Regions from separate parts of the Homo sapiens genome. Here region 1 is linked to region 2. Evidence: fine-mapped expression QTL. A gene starts in region 2. The other region holds a variant in brackets. All regions are shown on one strand. Distances are between the middles of the regions.

Region 1 (2,914 bases), 79 kb after region 2:
AAGCCTGCTATTCCTACCCGTTCTTCGATTTTCTTTCTCACACTGCATACTCTTCCTGAGAAATAGCATCTATGCTCATAACTTGAATTGCTGTCTTTATGCTGCTGAGTCCCAGATCTTTATTTCCATTCTAGATTTCTCATCTTAGAACCACACACATAAACTTAATGATAGATTTGACATTCTCTACTTAAATGTGCTATAGGCTCCTTAAATTCAGTGTCCCACAGTGACGTTTTCCCCATGATTTTCTCCTGGGATTCTGTAACTTCGTAAATGGTAATATCATCCACCCAGTTTCTCCTATCAGAAATCTGTTGTCGTCCTTACTTCCCCTACTTAGCTCTTCACATTTTACATTCCATCTCCAAATTTTCCTGCTTCTCAAATTAATTCACCTACCTCCATTCCCATGTTCACAGTCTTCAGTCCCCTTGGGCACACTGGCTGCACACAGTTGCTGTCTTCTCCTATATTTCTTATCTGGTAGCCCACGAGATCTTTCTAAAGTGAACATTTGATTTTTTTTTTCCTGCCTTTTCCATAACTTTACCTTCTTCAGTTTTTCCTTGTTACTTTCAGCTTTAAGCTCAAATTTCTTTACATGGTGTACACCCCTCCTTACCTCTCTAGTCTCATTTTGTACTATTCTTTTACACTAGCTCTTTGAATGTTCTCTTGCCTCTGGCCTTAGCACACACTATCTACTGGGAGTGCTTTTTTTTTTTCATTTCCAAATAGCTGACTCTTTCTTACTCTCCACAGACTGAGGCTAGCTCCTTTCTTACAGCCTGCTCTGATATCATCCCATCTCTGTTTGCCAAGTGGATTACTCTCATGTGCTCTCATAACATCATGAAGTTAATCATTTTTCATAGCATTTGTAGCTGTAACCTAGTCCTCTCTCCAAAACCACATCTCAGACATATAACTGTCTTCTCTTCATTTTCACTTTATTTCATTCTCATAGGCATTGCACATTTAACCTTCCAAAACTAAACTCTTGTTTTTCTCCAAAACCAGCTGTTCCTCCTGACTTCCCCATCTTAGAAAATGGCAGTATTACTATTCCATTTTTAATTAGACCAAAATCCAGAGTTGTCCTTTGTTCCTTAATTTTTTCACAGCCCATATCCAGTCCATCAATAAACCTTACTCTTTATTTCTTTTTTTTTTTTTTTTTTTTTTTTTTTTTTTTTTTTTTTAAGACAGAGTCTCGCTCTCTTGGCCTCTTGGGCAGGCTGGAGTGCAAATGGCGCTGTCTCGGCTCACTGCAAACTCCACCTCCCGGGTTCAGGAGATTCTCCTGCCTCAGCCTCCTGAGTAGCTGGGATTTACAGGCATGTGCCACCATGCCCGACTAACTTTTGTGTTTTTAGAAGTGATGGGGTTTCACCATGTTGGCCAGGCTGGTCTCGAACTCCTGACCTCAGGTGATCCACCCGGCTTGGCCTCCCAAAGTGCTGGGATTACAGGCGTGAGCCACCGCACCCAGCCAACCTTATTATTTCTACCTACAACATGTAT[T/C]TAGAGTCTAACCACCTCTCACTGTTTCTCCTACTGTCACCCTAATCCATGCCATCATCACTTTTTACCTGGATGCCTGCAGCAGCCTACTGACTGCTCTCCTGCTTCTGCTCCTCCTCCCCTAAAGTGGTTCTCATCCTCACAGCCAGAATGACCCTTTTAAAAAGAAAATCAGAGGTTTTTACTACTCTGTGCAAAACCTTCACACATCTCTCTCAGAATAAAAGCTAAAGCCCTCCGTCATCTGTCCCACTTCGCACCCTGCTTTGATTAATACTACTGACCTCATCCCCTGTTACTTCCCAAACCCTTTTTACTGTGACTCCAACTATATGGCTCACCCCCTCATTTTCTTTAGGTCTCTGGTTCAGATGTCGTCTTTTCATTGAAGCCTGCCTTGACCGTCCATCACAGAAGAGCTCACTCATTTCCACTCTGCTCAATTGTTCTCCATGGCACTTATACCATTTAGCTAGTTACGTATTTTCTTATTATTCTTCTACTCAAGTAGAATACAAACTCCACAAGGGCAGGAACTGGTTCTCTTGACTGCTGTGTTCCCAGCTCCTGGAGCAGTGTGTGGCCTCTAATAGGCTCTAAGTAAATAGTTGAAGTCTAGGGTTAGTAGTATGTCATGGACTTAGCGATATAACAGACCTGCTAATGCAGTCAGTCCTAGCTCCAATACTGAGCTCTTCAACCCCTTGTAATTAGACCGCTCCTCAGCTTCAGTTCCTAATCAATAGCATAGGATGTATTCATTCTTACCTATAATGTTATTTGTTTGGGGGAGGGTTAAATAAAATAAACAGTATGAAGTGCTTACCTCAGTACCTTGCCAATAATAAATAGTTGAGAGCAGCTGCTGCTACTAATACTGCTGCTAATTCTGATCAGATTACAGCATTTAAATTGCTTCTGACTTGTTCATCTCTTCTACCAGATTTTGTCTGGCTACATCTTAAACTTGCTATAATAATAATAATAACAACAATGTGACCATAAGAATACCAGTAATAATAATAGCAGCTGTGATCATTTGAGTGCTTACCAAGTACTAGAGAGTATTCTCTAAGTCAGCACTTCCCAGTGCCTCTTCCTGCAGTGATGGAAACGTTCTATATCTGCTCTGTCCAGAGTGGTGTGGTAGTCACTAGCCACATGCAGAGAGAGCTCTTGAGCACTTGGCAGTGTGACCGAGGAACTCAGTGTTTAATTTTATTTAATTTTAATTAATTTAGATTTTAATGACCATGTTGGCTACTGTATTTTAAAACTCTAAATTCTTTACCTACATTAATTCATTTAATACTCAAAGGTTAAGTAGATTATAGATGAAGAAATTGATTGTCTGAGTGGTGAAGAAACTTGCCCAAGATTACACAGC
Region 2 (2,914 bases):
TATGTACTAGACCTCCTAACCCGGACTAGTTATATTTTCCATGTAACAAATGGAATTTCCATAATTTGTACAAATATAATTTGGCTAGAGTATTTGGTAAATAGCCCCCTCGTTGGCTGAAGGACTAGTCCTGAAGAACAGAATCTAAGAACCATCATTAAAAATGCCTAATCAAGTTGCAGCTAAGAGGTAGGTGGATGGCTTTACAAAGTGTTAAGACTCAGCTAAGTCTTAAAAAACCACTTTAGAATTAGGTCCAAATAAACACTGTAGAAGAAGCTATGTTAAATTATCCTTTCAGAGGTTCTCTTGGTGCTAGGGATCAAGAACACTTGAAGATCAGTTTTCTCAATACAGGCTATATTATTATTGGCATGAAATCCAGAGATCCCACTATATTTTCTTATTTTCTTTTACAAGTGCCGGTAACTTCATTTTTAATAATTTGGCGTGGAACTGTGATTTTCAGTTTGGGAAGTAATCCTAATCAAAAGACATGCTTTCAAGAATAAGGCATGACATCCTTACACCAATTACCCTGAGTACAGAATAATATTTCTTAAGGAAATCGAATTGTCGTGGACAAACAGTTTACCCTCTTCAGAGGACAAAAGAAGGCAGGTCTATTTTTAGCCTTTCGCAAAACCTCAGTTCCATAAAGGAAGCACTGGTCTCCACAAATCCATTATCACAAACAAAATATAACGGTTGCTGATCAAGATAAATGCAAGCTGCATATATTTTCCAGAAAAGTTCTGAAATGAGGCTGAACCTGAAATCCTGGGAAAGGCAGGTGAAGGACAATTAGAGAAGGTGTCCCTTGTAGTGCACAAAGACAGTAAAACTTCGCCCTCACTACGCCTCACCTATGTTTGAGGGAGCTCCATGCGCTTGCAATCAGGAGACCCAGTTTTATGGCTCTGTGACTTTTTTTCTTTCTCCTGTCCGATCATAATCCTGATTCCGATCCCAGGAATCAGGGCCCTGGGAACTTTTTTTTTTTCCCCCAAATGCAAAGGATTTTGACATCAGTATGTCACAGGTGAAGGCATTAAGGCGCGGCGAGCAGCAATGACTTGCCCAAACTCACAGCCCATGGCATAACTAGAATGCAAATCCACGTCTGTCAGCCTGTAAAAGTCCTCACTACTAGCCTTTCAGTTTTCTCAAAAGCAAAGAGAAATAACGACGACATCCATACAGCAGTGTTCCCGGAAACTTGGAAGGATGAGATTCGGACCAAGCAGCTGAACGGTGCTTCCTAAAGCGAGGAAGGGGTGTGCAAAATGATTTCCCCCTAAGCGGAGACGAAGAGCTGGATTACAGCCCCCGCCCCAGAAAGCCCCTAAGCCCTCCATCCCGAGTCCCCCATCCAGGCTGCACGCGACTCTGCAGACCTCCCCGTGGCCAGCGCGGCCCAGCGGGGAGGGGAAGGGGGCCATGCAAAAATGGGGCGCGCTCACTCCATCCCCACTCACCTGTCAGCCGGGCCGCGCCACGGCGCACGCGCAGGGCCGGAGGTCGCGCGCGGAGCCGGCACCCAGTTTCCACCCCTCCCTCAAGGCGGCGGTCCTCTTCTATCCGCAGTCCCGGACCTGGAGCGGGTCAGACCCCGACTTCCGCCCCTGACTCCCCAGGCGGTCACATGACCGAAGCGGCTGGGAGCAGGGAGGGGCATCATGTGACCACTCGCCGGCGACGGCTGATGACGCAAGAGCCCGCTCTCACTTTTCAGCGGCAGGCGAAGGGGGCTGAGGAAAGGAGGTGGGTCTAGGCAGGGGAAATTGGGGTGCCACCAGACGGAGACAGCTTGGACTACCAGGTAGGGAAGAAGCGGGGGACGGCAATGGGGAGGGTGGCAGGAGTTTCGCCACCCTCAGGGACACTCCACGGGGACTCCGAGCCGGGGGTCCGTCTACCCGGATTATGGTTGTGGAACTTTTCACGCCACGGTAGTGAGTCTGGGACAGTTTACCCTCCTGTCCGAGACGCCATCTCTCCATCCTTTCGCCTCAAGTGTGTAGGGGCAAGATTACGAATTTTTGATCCAAATAGATTTTGTTTGAACTGACTTTAAAAGTAAGGCCACGGGAAGGTCGTTTGAATAAACTCTCTGGACCTCAATTTCCTCTTCAGTTATGTAGATTGCAGTGAGAATTAGCGATAAGGAGAATAAAGTGCCGGGACACCAGTTTATGGCATTCTGTAGGTGACCGAGAAATGATGATGTCTGTTGTTATTTTTGTAACTGGCCAAATCTTTATTGGTCCCCTATTTTGTGTGAGGAATTGCTTTATATGCAATAGAATATGTCAGGGTTCTAGTTTAAGGAGGTGTCAGTTTAAAGAAGCTGCAGACATGTGAGCAAATAGTTGTGATGAGTTTCATAATAGGAGTGTGTTGTGTACATGTGCATGTGATAGGGATAATGGTAGCATGAGGGAGGGAAAAGCAATTGTATGAGAAGGATTCAGAGAGAAGGGATTATCCTTGCATGTTGAAAAAGGAGAGGCAGCTCTGGCTGACTTGTACAAGGCTCCCATGGATTTAAAGGAAGTCAACATATTGTCTATAAATAACATGCAGAGAAAAAACTCAGGAAATGCACAACTTGTTCTAAACTTTCTTGGAGATCATAGGTACCGGGAAGAAAAAGATCAGTGTTATTACCTGGGGAGGGATCCAAGAGAGATTGATTTAAACCAGTTATTCTCAACTGATGCACTATTGACATTTTAGGCCAGATAATTTTTTGCTGTGGGGTCAGGGTGAGGGCTGTCCTGTGTTTTGTAGGATGCTTAAGAGCATCCCTGGCCTCTGCCCGCTAGATGCCAACCACAAAGTCTACAGATACTGCTAAATGTCCCCTTGCGAGAGGGGTAAAATCCTTCTTGGTTGAGAACCACTTAAACCA

Evidence for each region. PIP is the estimated chance that this variant, and not a neighbour inherited with it, causes the effect. A credible set is the group of variants that fine-mapping cannot tell apart.
Region 1: its variant is the best candidate, but not a certain one, in a credible set for the expression of WASHC5 in whole blood (TOPMed, PIP 0.65).

The regions. Positions count from the first base shown.
Region 1 is chr8:125,169,211-125,172,124 of GRCh38, forward strand. The region is part of intron 4 of NSMCE2 (NSE2 SUMO ligase component of SMC5/6 complex); the gene reads left to right. Among named protein-coding and RNA genes, the nearest start is that of NSMCE2, 79 kb to the left of the region's middle. The variant T/C (reference allele first, on the strand shown) is at 1,528.
Region 2 is chr8:125,090,137-125,093,050 of GRCh38, forward strand. WASHC5 (WASH complex subunit 5) reads right to left here and starts at 1,656. Exons shown (of 29, transcript NM_014846.4): 1 at 1,479-1,656. NSMCE2 (NSE2 SUMO ligase component of SMC5/6 complex) reads left to right here and starts at 1,724. Exons shown (of 8, transcript NM_173685.4): 1 at 1,724-1,822. RefSeq lists a silencer at 1,376-1,545 and an enhancer at 1,596-1,815.